Linked DNA regions of Homo sapiens. The protein of the gene in region 1 purifies or fractionates together with the protein of each later gene. This does not show direct contact. Each region holds a gene or a part of one and is shown in the gene's direction. Other genes may lie near its edges.

Region 1 (3,113 bases):
ACGACTTGAGTCACTTTGGCTTGGGGGACCCACCTGGCCTAGCTGCTCACAGCTCTTCAAAGATGGGAAGAGCTGGGACCTGCCAGAGAGGCCAGGCCAGCCCTCAGACAAATGAGTCCATCTGCATTCTGCGCACAGCCACATGCCCACAGTAATTGGTGAGGCGAGAATCTTGGGGAGCAGCGGGGAGAGGGATCAATCTGGCTCGCTTTGGCACTAACAGGCCGGCCGCTCCATGAGCAGCAGGGGTTGATGCCTGCTGGTGTGAGCCTGTGCCACTCTGAAGATGGAGACACTTAAGACCATAGGGCTGGTCTGGGGAGAGGCCCCTCCAAGACTGCACTGGTGACTGGTTTGGAGTTTCAGGTCCACGGTTTCGCTGGGTGTGGATGTGAAGTGGTGAAACCTCCAGTCCATCCATGTTCAGGCTCCTGGCCTCTGTAGGGGAGTTGCCCCTCTTTTGTCTTGGCTGGACCAAGGGGCAGGGGCAGAATCCATTTCCCAGCCCTGTTGGGACACCCTGGGCTGTCAGCCCTGTCTTGGGGCTGTTCCAGCAACAGGCCAGACTGAGCTGCAGCCTGCTTCCTAGTGAGTCCTCCTCTTCCTGGAGACTGTAGAAGGCCAGCAGGCAGCAGAGGTGTCCCCTGACCCACTCTGTTCAGCTGTGTGTGTGCTGTCTCCATCAAGCTTCTTTCTGTCTCTCCGGTGGGTGATGGGGGCTACAGTGAATGTCTGTGGTCTGGACTGGCTGCCCCCAGTAGTGGTTCCTTGTGTTCAGGAGGCAACCATGGAGCTTTCTTTTTTAAAAAAAAATTTATTAATTTTTTTTTTTCTTTGAGGCGGAGTCTTACCATCTTTCCCAGGGTGATCTTGAACTCTTGGGCTCAAGCAGTCCTCCTGCCTCAGACTCCCAGAGTGTTGGGATTATAGGCGGAAGCCACTGCTCCTGGCTTTTGGGGTTTTCTTGAGCTGTGATCCAAAAGCTATTGTGGCAGCTGTCTAGTCCAGTTGCCCTGCATATTGGCCTTAATACCTCAATATGAATATTTTTTTTTTTTTTTTGAGACGGAGTCTCGCTCTGTTGCCAGGCTGGAGTGCAGTGGTGCGATCTTGGCTCACTGCAACCTCCGCCTCTCAGGTTCAAGCAATTCTCCTGCCTCAGCTTCCTGAGTAGCTGGGACTACAGGCACGCCACCACGCCCGACTAATTTTTGTATTTTTAGTAGAGACGGGGTTTCACCATGTTGGCCAGGATGGTCTTGATCTCATGACCTTGTGATCCACCTGCCTCAGCCTCCCAAAGTGCTGGGATTACAGGCATGAGCCACCACGCCTGGCCCTCAATATGAATCTTGAACTACACAAGCCCCCAGGAGACTTACCTGCCTGTCGGGGAGGGCTGTTGCTCTCTGCGCCCACCCACAGCCCTTGGATAGTAAGGCATCTATGGGCCTTCGTTGGCTGCATGCTCCTGGACCCTGACTTTCCTCCTCCTGGGGGCCAGCATCTCCCCAGGAGTCACTGGGTGCTGCTGGCCCACTGATGAGGATGACCCTGTTAGGTGTGTTTGGGAATATGGTTCCCCTGTTGCTCCCACTTCAGCTCAGTAAAACTTGGAATAACCTTCCAAAGAGTGGGTGAAGACAGCAGCTGCAGGTAGCCCCAGGCCTTCCTCAGGACGGTGGAAGCGTGTTCTCCCTGCCTCATCCCTCTGTGGCAGTGGGGAAGGGGGTAGGGAAAGAGTTGGAGGTCAGGCGAGCCAGACTGGGAGTAGCAGTAGTCAGTGAGTGTGTGTGTCTGCTAGATGGCTGTGCACCTGCCCTGAAGGTGGTCTCTCAGATCCTCCTGAACCCCCTGGAGGGCATGTTCAGGGGTTCCTCAAGGTGAAGGGTACCATGGGTGGTGAAGGGTACCATGGGTGGAACAGGCAGACCTCACCTGGCAGGAAGGAAAGTGAGGGGATCGTTAGCATCCCTGTTGAGTCATCTGCAGCAGGCTCAGGAAAGGTCCTAGCTGCCTATCCTTGGGGGAGCCTCAGAGCCCGTGCCAGAAGTGTTCCTAGGAGATGCAGGGACGCAAGGACTCACCTGGCTGAGCCCCAAGGCCTGGAAGCAGCTCCAGGAAAGGGCACCCATCCGGCAGCACCGTGGGTTGTTTACTGTCTGAGCCTGTGCCTACTGAGTGCTTCCTGTATGCGCAGCACCAGGCACGGGCTCATCCAGCTCAGCATGATCTCATGGGAATACTAAACGAACATGAAATTGCAGTCTCACGTTACAGCTGGAATAATTGCTGGAAGCACTGGGGGCTAAGAGGGAGTCTGAGCAAGTGTCCTTTACCCTGAGAACCTGAGGATCCAGTCAGGTGAAGACAGCCGTACAACCTGAGGCCCTGAGACAGACAGCTGCTGGGTTCGGGGCTGAGATGAGGCAGCCCGGGGTGCATGTGGCAGAGTGGGCTTTATGGAGTTCCTCCCAGGGGACAGAATGTACTAAAATGAGGCTGGCGCACAGCACTGCCAGGAGCCCTTTGTGGCTTAGAGAAGTAATGCGGGCCAGAGGGTGCCACTGAGAAGGGTCCTGGTTCCTTCCTGGTCCCGGGATCGCCTGCCCTCAGCCGACTGGGAAATCTAGTTGCCTTGAATTGTTTCCTTTCCTCCCCATGCCGGGAGGCAGAGGCAGGGAGCAGTGGTCTTCTGCCACTGCTTCGGCAGTTGGAGAGAGGTTGGATCTTCTCTGTAAGGACTAGGAAGTTCCCCTTTAAGTAGCCTGATCCTGGTCATCCAGAGATTGGAGCTTCAATCTGACTTAGGATGTGGTGGGAAAGTTTGAATCATTCTCTAACAGTCCCCTGAGTTATGATACTCCTGGGACAAGTTCGGGGGGGTCTTGGCAGAGGCCATCTCCCTGAGCCAGGCTTTGGGTCCAGTGCACCATAGAATTTGCTCCCTGGGAGAGTGCACAGGTCCTTTCCTTCCTTGCCAGACTCCATCACCTGGAGAGCAGCCCTTGTTCAGCCTGAGCCAGCGTTGGGCGGGGAGGCCCCAAGTGCTACATGAGAGGAGGGGCAGCACCTCTCTCTGGAAAGGGGAGGGTTGCTGAGTAGTGGCCTCA
Region 2 (3,652 bases), on another chromosome or scaffold:
GTCCAGTCCCTGTTTGCCTGGGTATCACCAGCAGAGGCTGCAGAACAGCAAAGATTGCTGCTTGTTCCTTCCTCTGGAAGCTTTGTCCCAGAGGGGTACCCGCCAGATGCCAACCAGAGCTCTCCTCTATGAGGTGTCTATTGACCCCTGATGGGAGGTGTCTCCTAGGCAGGAGGCACAGGGGTCAGGGACCCACTTGAGGAGGCAGTCTGTCCCTTAGCAGAGCTTGAGCACTGTGCCGGGAGATCCGCTGCTCTCTTCAGAGCCGGCAGGCAGGAACGTTTGAGTCTGCTGAAGCTGTGCCCACAGCCGCCCCTTCCCCCAGGTGCTCTGTCCCAGGAAGATGGGAGTTTTATTTATAAGGTCCTGACTGGGGCTGAGGCAGCATTTTGTTTCCTTTTTTTGTCTTGGAGTGTTCATTCTTTATTCTTCACTAGACTGAACTTAGTTCTTAATCGTTCTTTTATCCTCAATATATTAATAGACTCTTGCTATCATAGGTCCTTATATTGTGAGTTAAGTGAATGAATTGTTGCTATCTTGGGAATTACTGCTTAATTTTTGTTTTCCTTCTAGGACCTCGACTGGATTTTGATCCTGACATTGTTGCAGCTCTTGATGATGATTTTGACTTTGATGATCCAGATAATCTGCTTGAGGATGACTTTATTCTTCAGGCCAATAAGGCAACAGGAGAGGAAGAGGGAATGGATATACAGTATGTGTGGTTTGTTTCAAAGCAGAGATGATGACCTAAGTGTTACTGCTTCAGTGGGATGGTAACCATAGAACGTTACAGTTGGAAGAGACCTTCAAGAGCATTTAATCTGAGACTTCTGTATTTTAGAGCAGAAAATGTGAGATTCATTGCTTTTCCTACCAAACCAGATTGATCAAACACCCTCACTCTTCCTGCCTAGACAAGAACCCTTCCTGAAATACCTTCCAATTTTACTTGTGTAAAGTGGTTTTGTTCTGTTACTTTTTAAGTTGTTTTGGTAGGTAATTTATGACCTTTACTTTAGGAAATCTGAGAATGAAGATGACAGCGAGTGGGAAGATGTGGATGATGAGAAGGGAGATAGCAATGATGACTATGACTCTGCAGGCCTATTGTCAGATGAAGACTGTATGTCTGTGCCCGGAAAAACTCACAGAGCTATAGCAGATCACTTGTTCTGGAGTGAGGAAACAAAGAGTCGCTTCACGGAGTATTCGATGACTTCCTCAGTCATGAGGAGAAATGAACAGCTGACCCTACATGATGAGAGGTTTGAGAAGGTAAGGTCCCCACATAAGGGATGCTTTAGTACTATCTTATGTTAAATTTTTTTTTTTAATACCTGTCAGCTTTAGCCCAGGTTGAAGTGCTCACCAACCACAAAGTCAATCATAGGAAGTTTACAACTATCCAGCTATAGGTTCGTGTAGCCAGCATAAAGCAGAAGGGTATCAGTGCAGTACAGGAGCACAAAGACTGCAAAGGGAGCATAGAACTGTGCAGAAGAAGAGTAATTGGTTAGGAGGATGTGACTTTTCCAATTTACATCACACGCTTACACCAGGAGGTGGCTCAAATGATGCCTCATTCAACCTGAATGGGTAACCAAAAGTAGCTGTAATAGTTTTATTCTCACTAACTGTGGTAGGACAACTCACTTGAGTTTCTATTTGGCCCTTAAAACCCCCAGAAGTGGCCCTTAAACCCTCACCATCTCTAATGTTGTGCTTCTTTATTATGTATGTCATATATGGATTTGTCTCAGATTAGAATGTGAATCCCCCAAGGGCAGAGAGTTTTTTATATTTTGCTCACGATACATCTGAAAGCCTAAAATGGTGTCTTGGCATGTAGTAGAAGTTTAAAGTGTTCCATAAATGATAAATGAATGAAGGAATAGTTTCCTTCAAGGTGACTCTAAAGATAGAAGCAGTCCACTCAAGGACCTTGACGAAGCCGAGCGGGTTGAGGTTGATCTGGAAACTGGAACATCCTCTGGCCAAGTCAGCTGATCCGCCCGCGAGCTAAGTAGATGTTAGGCGCCTTGCTGTGTGCCTTGTTTTTTTTTGTTATTTTTCTTTTTTTATTTTTTAAAAAGAGAGATTGGGACCCAAAGCTAAAACTTTTGAGTGTTGAAAACAGCGTATCTCTTTATTAAAACAGAGCATAAAAGCACCTTAGTTATTGTCGTTTTCCCTTTACATATTCTATGAGGCCAGTCACCCTAGTTTTGATTCTGGAAAGAACGTGTGTAGGTCAAAAGGAGTTGGCTGATCAAACGTTCTTATTTTCCCCCTTGAATTCTGACATCCTGATTCTGAATTTCTCCAACAGTAATCCATAAGATGCTATATTTCTGAAGTATTGGCCTGATTGAGCACATCAAAATTCCATTTCTTTCCGTTTCTCATCTGGTGTTTTCAGACATAACTAACACTGAGGAATAGAATGGAAGTAGAGTATAAGACACTTTTGAAAGCTTGTATTTTCATATACTCTATTTGGTTCTGTTGTAACAGATTAGCTCCAGGGTTTATAATCCCAACCTATAGACTGTTTATACAGGTTTTTAATCCCACCTATCCTGTTGTTTGTTCTGTAGCACATAACACCTCCTAACATCATCTCTAATGTTGTGCTTTATTATGTATGTTATATATAGATTTGTCTCAGATTAGAATGTGAATTCCCCAAGGGCAGAGAGTTCTTTGTATTTTGCTCACGGATACATCCAAAAGCCTAAAATGGTGTCTTGGCATGTAATAGAAGTTTAAAGTGTTCCATAAATGATAAATGAATGAAGGAATAGTTGCCATCCAGGTGAATCTAAAATAAAGGCTGTTACCTTGCTACCTTCTCACCTAATACTATTTTCCCTCTTCTCTTGAGGGAGAAACAAACTGTTGCTACAAATCTCACTCTTCAGGAGATATATCCCCCCCATTTACTCTTTGTCAAAGCTTAACAGTGTCAACACCATTTGCATAATATAGTAATTATTGTCTAAACAAGAACAAATATATACATTAGTAGGTGAATTTTCAGTTGCACAATCTTTTAGTTTGCATAACTAAGGAATATGAAAATATCTTTAGTCTAGGCGTAGTGTCTCGTGCCTATAATCTCAGAACTGTGGGAGGCCGAAGCAGATGGATCACTTGAGCCTAGGAGTTTGAGACTGTCTTGGGCAGTGCAGACCCTGTTTCTATTTAAAAAAATAAATAAAATGGCCTGGTATGGTGGCATGTGCCTGTGGTCCCAGCTGCTTGAGAGGCTGAGGTGGGAAGATTGCTTGAGCCTGAGAGTTTGAGGCTGCAGTGAACTATGATCACGCCACTGTACTCCAGGCTGGGAGACAGTGAGATACTTAAAAAAAAGAAAAAGTATCTTCAAAAATGTTCTGACGTAATCTGTGCTGCCTAGCATTTTGTTCTCCAAGCTGAGTGGAATAATGCCTTTCATTTACATGTTAAATGGAAGCCTATTTTTAGGCTAAATGTAAGTCTTAAAGTACTGAGCAGAAATATCTTCCACATCCTATTGTTGCATTAAATCCCTACTGATATTTTAATGGTAATTGTGATAGTACCTGAATAACTATTGTGTAAGAATAAAGTTAATGTAAAAAAATTTTTAAGTGTGTAGTCTTAC

Evidence for each region. The genes of interacting proteins can lie anywhere in the genome.
Region 2: the proteins of PSKH1 (region 1) and LTV1 purify together in Homo sapiens (affinity purification with mass spectrometry; one large-scale study listed by BioGRID and IntAct). This does not show direct contact.

Annotation. Positions count from the first base shown.
Region 1 is NC_000016.10:67,924,153-67,927,265, forward strand, and holds part of PSKH1 (serine/threonine-protein kinase H1), read left to right. Parts: intron 1-3,113. UniProt on the Homo sapiens protein: Serine/threonine protein kinase that may be involved in the regulation of pre-mRNA processing.
Region 2 is NC_000006.12:143,856,727-143,860,378, forward strand, and holds part of LTV1 (protein LTV1 homolog), read left to right. Parts: intron 1-576; coding exon 577-718; exon of another isoform or gene 719-855; coding exon of another isoform or gene 856-857; intron 858-1,025; coding exon 1,026-1,281; intron 1,282-3,652. UniProt on the Homo sapiens protein: Essential for ribosome biogenesis.